2 linked regions of the Homo sapiens genome follow. The protein of the gene in region 2 purifies or fractionates together with the protein of the main gene of each other region. This does not show direct contact. Each region holds a gene or a part of one and is shown on either strand. Other genes may lie near its edges.

The links.
Region 1: the proteins of CIMAP3 (region 2) and RAP2A purify together in Homo sapiens (affinity purification with mass spectrometry, with the first as the bait; one large-scale study listed by BioGRID). This does not show direct contact.

The regions. Positions count from the first base shown.
Region 1 is NC_000013.11:97,461,414-97,465,457, reverse strand, and holds part of RAP2A (ras-related protein Rap-2a), read right to left. Parts: intron 1,254-4,044; coding exon 1,016-1,253; 3' UTR 1-1,015. UniProt on the Homo sapiens protein: Small GTP-binding protein which cycles between a GDP-bound inactive and a GTP-bound active form. In its active form interacts with and regulates several effectors including MAP4K4, MINK1 and TNIK.
Region 2 is NC_000001.11:111,349,622-111,353,513, reverse strand, and holds the end of CIMAP3 (ciliary microtubule-associated protein 3), read right to left. Parts: intron 3,409-3,892; coding exon 3,291-3,408; intron 2,256-3,290; coding exon 2,187-2,255; 3' UTR 501-2,186; downstream 1-500. UniProt on the Homo sapiens protein: During primary cilia disassembly, involved in cilia disassembly. Required specifically to control cilia retraction as well as the liberation and duplication of the basal body/centrosome.

The sequences.
Region 1 (4,044 bases), on a different chromosome or scaffold from region 2:
CGGGTCACACTACAACCATAGCCCTTAAAGGCGAGAAGGAATTTGCTGCTTTAATGAACTTAAAAATGCCAGATATTCGTACTGTCCTGTGAGGTTTCTGCAAACGGGAACATGTGGATGCAACATGGCTTCATCTTCCTTACATGATGGTACTAGTTTATCTATTAGAATGCTTCTTGTTAGTAAGGCTAGGTAATCTCTTCCCATCACAGTTGCTTCCCTCTTGTTCAGTAAAGTTATAAAGACCACCCCTAACAGAGGGCGGGTTTGGGGTTTTAATTCTGATCAAACCCTTGTGAAAGCCTCCATTTTCTGTGGCAAAGCAGGTGAATTAACAAATTCTAAAGCCAGACTATATTTTTACATAACCTGTTCTGAGTTTTGCTCTATCAAGGATTGAAGCATGAGTTAGTTCCATGTCACAAATTAGAATAACAGCTACAATTAAGCATCAATTTTGAAAAACAGAAATGTGTTAGCTGAGCAAAGAATCTCCCTGTAATGCTGTTGGCAGGTCAGCTGTTATTATCTTACTTGACGGAATACATTGGTTAGAAGCTCTATCCCATTTCCTGAAATTCAGTACTCTTGTAGGAAAATATTTCTCCTTTACTTATTTTTTTAAAGAAGACAAAATATTTTAATTGTAAGTGGTCAGAGGAATTCTTCTGGTTTCTCCCTTATGGTTATTTTTAATTTGTACAATAGTTGCTTCTGTCAACTCAGCGACAATGCCATCATAGCTTTCAAATGAGATCACCCTGTAGATCGATGGACTATGCCTTAAAGTTGCAGATGCATAAAGGAGACTGAGGACAAATGGTGAAAACTGTAGTTACTGAACCCAAATGTTACTCAGAGATATCAACTGACAATCACTGCTCAATTCTGAATAAGGGCTGCAGTTCTCTGTAGATTAACACCACGCATTCTGCAAGTTCTGCAGTGGAGTAGGCGAGTTTTCTATCACCTACGACATTGGGCAAATCCCATCCAGGACAGCCATATTTGGATGCTATTGTATGTTACATGCAGAACAGCATGGGTCATCTTTGTCAGGCTGAGCAGCATAGTTCATCTGCCTCACAATTTCTGCAAAGAGTTCGTCCACCATTGTTTTACTCTTAGCGGAAGTTTCCATAAAGGGGCAGCCCCACTCTTCAGCAAGGGCTCTGCCTTCGCTGGACGATACTTCTCTCTCACTTTCCAGGTCCACTTTGTTCCCAACCAAGATGACTGGCACTTTCTCATACCTATGAGAGAATAAACAAAACACACATACATTGTAACAGTTAGCACAAAGTTAAACAGGTCACGTGTATTTTCGTTTTTGGGGGCTATTCCAACATAAATGGTATCTTCAGTTGCATGAAAATGATTTGTACCACTTGGCTTGATACTTAGATCTGAGGGCATTTGAAGCTGCTCTCACAGTGGATGATAAAATGAGTTTTATGAAATGATGTTTTAATTAATCAATTATATATCCTTTAAAATCAATTTACCTTTCCAGATATACTTGGAAAATTATTCTCAGAAACTCAGACTAAATCCTCTTTTTTTTCCATTCTGAGAGAGGGTTGCACAAAATTTCACAGTTGATCACACAGTAAATAGCTACAATGAGTAAACAAACAACTTATAATTATCAGCATTTTACTATGTTCTATGTGTATAAAATTGATCATGTTCATACAAAAATCAGCTGGGTGTGGTGGCAGGTGCCTGTAGTTCCAGCTACTCGGGAGGCTGAGACAGGAGAATCGCTTGAACCTGGGAGGCAGAGGTTGCAGTGAGCTGAGATCGTGCCACCGCACTCCAGCTTGAAAAAATGATCATGTTCGTTCTAATAGTTCTCAAACAAGAAAAAAGGTAGTAGAAATCATCCAAATGGAAGCTATCAAATACAACCACACCCCATCCCTTCAGAAAACTTTTATGGATTAGTCAGTTCAAAGAGAAACAATTAGGATTCTTTTAAGACTGACAAGAATTCAGCCTCAATTAGCTTTAATTGGTGTTATTTCTCTTTTTCTTCCTAACTAAAATAGGTATCTCTGAGTAAACACGTTTGGAAAAAGCTAAACTAATAAAAATAGTAAGTGATAAGAAAGAACAAAGAAAGAAGCTCCTAAGTCATTTTGGTGCCTAAGATGATTGTCTCTACAATGGTTACTCCATGTAGCACATTTCACAACAGATGTCAACACTGGTGCTGGACTGCACATTTATTTACTATTCTTCTTTATGTTTGTTCTAAGAAAGATAGCTAATATATTTTCACAAGACATTTTAAAAGGTTTTTGTGATTTTAGTATAAATCTGTGTGTGTGTGTGTTTGTGTGTGTGTGTCTTCCCATAAGCAGAATGTATTTCTGATTTAAAGGAGCTAAACAGCAAGATCGCACAAAAGTGATAACAAATGTGACTGGAAACAGCTAAATCTGTCAGAAGAGAAAACCACCCCATGGTCAAGCCTTTGAGGCAGGATGCATAGACAATTTTTATCATTCAGGAAACTGGATAATAGGCAGGTGGTTATTGTTCGCTATGATACTTCCACAGATTTCTTCATCCTGTCAAGAGGGTTCTCTCCACTCATCCTAACTTGTAAAGCAAACCAAATTCCCAACATTCTCACTTTTTTTCTTTGACACTATATCAAACTAAGAATGGTCTCAACAAGAGGGCATACTCCAGGTAGTGTGCCATTTGGCAATGTGAAACATGAAAACAACTTAAAAATGAGTGGAAGGAACAACATCAAAGGCAAACCTAGAATTTGGATATTATCATTTTATAGGAAATGAATTTGGACAACTTCAATTTATATCAAAGGACTTTATATAAATTTACTGTACACTACTGTACCTTACGATTTCGGGCCTTAGATCATGCTGACAGCTCTGAACATAAGACACAAGGGTTTTTAACATCTTCTAGGACTCTTACATACAAACAATTTGTGCATCCCATGGCCTCTAGGAGGGCAAGTGGCAGTGAGAATAAAGCTGCATTACAAAACACCATGTATTTGCTACTTTGCATATAAACTCTCTTGATTGGCTATACAGAGAAGCTTGGCAGGGAGCAGACACTGCCAGCCATGTCAGGACAATGTCAGCTTCCAATTTGTGTTACTTGCAAAATGTAATTACATTTCGTTTTTCTTATGAAAGTATATACATCACAGTGTACTTTAAAATGCTTTGCTTGACAGTGGAGTAACTTAAAAACATTAATAAAATTAAGTAAAACATTGGTTGAATTTAAGTTAAAACAAATTTCAGTCTGTCTATGAATAATAAAAAGTGATAAGATCACTTTCTATTAGTTGAGATAAATGATAAATATTTTAAAGAATGTTTAAATACAATATATATAATATATAAATATATATATAAATATATATATAAATATATATAAATATATAAATATCTATATAAATATATAAATATAAATATATAAATATATATATATATATATTTTTTTTTTGAGACGGAGTCTCGCTCTGTCTCCCAGGCTGGAGTGCAGTGGCATGATCTTTGCTCACTGCAAGCTCCGCCTCCCGGGTTCACGCCATTCTCTTGCCTCAGTCTCCTGAGTACCTGGGACTACAGGCGCCCACCACCACGCCCGACTAATTTTTTGTATATTTAGTAGAGACAGGGTTTCATCGTGTTAGCTAGGATGGTCTCGATCTCCTGACCTCGTGATCCGCCCGCCTCAGCCTCCCAAAGTGCTGGGATTACAGGCGTGAGCCACCGCACCCAGCCTGTATCATGTTTTATATGTGAAATATTTCTTACACTTTTAGTTAAGTTCAGGATCTACTAGAATATGTGGATTTTCAAAACTTGCAAATAAATCAAATTATTAAGTTGTATTGATACATTATTAAAATCAAGAATTTGAATAAATCTTACCATCAACCTAATTCTCAAAACAGTAAATAAAATATTGCAAACACAGTTCCACATATAACAGCATTTAATAACTGGTAAATGTAGATGAAAATGCAGTCAGTATCAGAGGACCTGTTTA
Region 2 (3,892 bases):
GACCTGTGACACCCAGAAGTGAAGGCTTCTGTGCTAATATTGGCAGAGGCAGTGGCCGTGGTAGAGAAGGTGGCAGTGATGGGGGAAGTGATGGAGAAGGCGGCAGTGATGGGGGCAATAGGGGAGACAGAGCTTTCTGTAGTGGTAAAGCAGATGGCATTTATAGTAATCCTGAAGATAATAACAAGTTCTACTGGTGTGTGGAAGGCAATACCTTTCACCTCAAGTATGCCCAAGGTTGGAGCAGAACTGTAAGTGTTGCAACTGGCCTTAAACATACTCATAAAATCCTAGTGTCATAGATTCTGTTGTCTGCATGTCAAACTACATCCTCCAATATGTCATGTAGTCTACGTATTATATAAATCTGTCACTTTGGAAGCTTTACCCCACTAAAACTGCATTATAATAAAGCTTAACTCTATTAAGACCTAAAAATACTATAAACTCCTCGAACCAAGTCTAGATGTAAAATAAATATGGCACAGTATGTTTTAGTCTTCGTGTTCATTTGTACTTTATTACTTTTATATACAATGTAGCATTTAAAGTATCCTGAAGGTTAACTGAAGCTATATTAAAATTTTATCTTTCATCAAATCAGATTACTATTTTAGAGAGTTCCTTTCCCTGGGAAAAGCTTTGAGCGTCTCTGTACCAAACAGTGTGAAAGATGTTCTATCCCCACCTCCACCCCCATCAATATCCTCCAAAGGGACCTAAGAACTTGAAGCAGAAAAAAAAACATTAAATGCTAAATTGTCACCTCTGAAAAAATCTGCACATGTGGGTACAAAGGAGAAAAAGGAGGGAGGTGTACAGGAGAGGTGATAACAGTTAATCCTGACTTATCTCAAGTCATAAATACTTCTTGATAACAGAAATCATTAAGTCATCAGATTAAAAGAAGTGTATATATTAGGTATGTTCTTGCTGAGGTATCTTTATCATTATCTTAATATATCCTATGTGATTTCTCATAAAGACTTTTCTGTCCTTCACCATTATTATTTCAGAAGACCTTGGCCTTTAAGGAATTAGGCACCCCCAGCATCATATGACCAGGAGGCTTCACCTCTTGCTAGCCCTTTCCCCAGGTAACACTCATCAGGGGGTGGCCATGAGGGTTACAGTAGGCTCTCTTGCAGCCACTGGCAGCTTCTCAATCTTTGGTGTCCAGACACATGCAGGCTTATCACCTTTCTGGTAATTACGAAGAAGCCTAAGTGGGTACAAAAGGACCCTTTTATTAAAAGATTAAATCACATTTAGTGCCAATCCTGAACAAACTATATACTTGATTATTTCAGCTAGTGCTGGAAAGAAAGGGGTCTATCTCTCAGGCCTGAGTGTCTGAGTAAGTACTTTAAATGCAGCTGCTTACAAGTCAGTCTGGGGCTATAAATGTTATGATCTTTATAACCCCAGAATGACTTGTAAGGTTCTAGGGGGTCATTCAGATTGGAGGGCAGACCCAATCCCCTAGCTGCCCTGGGGAGTCCTCCTCTGACTTCAGGCCAGGCCCAAGGACTTAGTAGATAAGTTTATTTTGATTCCTGCCATATCCCCAGTGCTTACTGCTCTGCTCAACACATAGTAGGACCTCAGTATATATGTTGACTCACAGACTAAATGGATGATGTCATAGGAAAGGGGCAATTTTTTGGTTTTTGAGTTTTATGTCAATCTGGGAAAGTCAACCAAATCAAGACCTTCCCACTCCACACTGAGCAACACAATTGGGAGAGCTCCAATACATGTTTTAATCTGCCTTAAGTGTTTTCTGTATCTAGCAAGCCCAAATCCCATCCAAACCCTTGACATGTATAGGCTAACAGCCTCCTATGACCAGGGCTAGTGGTAGAATATATAAAATTGGCTCCTGGGAATTAGAACTAGAGAGCAGGGGCCCACAAATATTTCACTAAAATGAAATCACCCAACTCAGCACCCAACAGAAACCCACAGACCCAGACATGCACGTGTACACCACAAGTCAGTAGATGGAGATAGCACTGTGCACTAGTCTTTATGTTCTCATACAGCAGCTATAAGCCCCTGTCCCTCCCTGGGCTCCAGGCTGCCAGACAAGAGGGCCACAGTAACGTAGAAGAAGAAGAGCAGCTCTGTCCTCAGTCCTGGAGAGTCTGTGTATAAGAGGAGCACGTGAAGGTAGTTACAGCCGCTCAATTATAATACAGGCTTAGGTAGGCCACACGGTTCCGATGCTTTCTAAAGTCTTTGTCTGTGGACAGCTGCAATGAAAGAACGTTTTCTAGATCAATATTCTAATGAGAACCCTCTGCCTCTGGTCTTCCCAGTTATGCAAAAAAAAAAAAAAAAAAAACTGTACATTATAGAGGTGAATCCCAACTCCATAGTAATCTAGCCTTAGTGATTCTCCCAAAATTTGTATGTACATCTACCCTTTATCATCTTACTATAGTGTATACCATGCTAGGAATTATTTACTACTTAGTAAATCCCCAAGCAGTTGGTGGGCTTCTTGAAGTCAAGGACTATATGTTTAATTCTTGAGTTGTTGCCCATAGGCCCTAATGCAATAATGTTAATACATTTGGCATTTAATAAATAATTGTAGAATTAATGAAAAGTTCCACTAGGAAAGAAAAAAGCACCTCTGGAATTATGATAGCTAACAGATTGAACAATTACTATGTTATCAAGTACTGTGTTAAATGATTTTCCACATTTTCTTTATAACCTTATCGGATTGATTCTATTTTAATACCCATTTTACAGATTAAAAAACTGAGGCTTAGAAAAGTCAAAAGATTTGCTCAAGATTACACAAGTAAATACTGCAGCTAGTATTTGAATCCAGGCAGTTTTGTCCCCATAATCCATGCTCTTAGCTGAATTCTCTATGGCTCCTCAGTGATCTAGTACTCAAGGGGTATGTCGGAAAGAGCAATGTATTAGGAGTCACAAGATCCAGATTCCAGTAGTGAAACCTGCACAAATCACTTAATCCATCTGGGCCTCTATTGTGTAGGGATATTTCCTCTGTACCTACCACAAAAGTTATTTAAGGATCAAATAAGAAAATGTCACTTTTGTTTAGTCATATATACCTTTAAGAATCTAATGAAATAGTGTAATTCTCCAAAAAGTTCCTCAGATTCATATACACACAAAATTGTGCATATAATTTTTTGGGACCAAGGACTTCCTGAAGTTCATTCACAGACCCCTAATTAAGAGTCCCTAATACCTATGAAAGTACTAGATCGAATAAGAGTCTTCTACAGAAGTTCCAATCTTATTACCTCAGCTTTTAGGGTTCTTTTCTGTAGACATGGAACCTGAGCCCAGTCTGGAGATCCAAATTTCATTGGCCAGGCAATTTTTGGCGGTGGCTTCTTCTCTGGGTTGTATGCACCAGGGCTAGAAATAAAAATACAAGCATCATGTCTAATGAGTTAGTGATCATACACAAACTCCATCAGTACCAGAGCCGTCCCTGGACTAGGCCTAACCTCTTGGAAAAAGGCAACAGATTGATTAGCTTTTTAATTAAGCATGGGATTCCTTTACCTGTTAATGTATTTCGAGTTAGATGTTAGCGTTAAACATCTAACTTGACAATCTTGACATCCAGTTAGAGCACAGATCGACTCCAGATTAAAAGATATTTCTGTACCTCAGTATCTATAGCTGAGAGATGAGAAGGTCCTAGAAGCGGTGGGTGATGAAAGAGATCTAAAGCAGTGATGAATTAGTACTGCCCACAATTTAAAGTTGGTGATAAAAGTGCAGTGATAATCTATCTGCAATGTAGGCAAAGCAAAGCAAAGCAAAGCCAGTTAAATTTTCTTGACAATGGGGTCATTTAAAAATTGTCTTTGTTCATATACACTTTGTCTTTTGG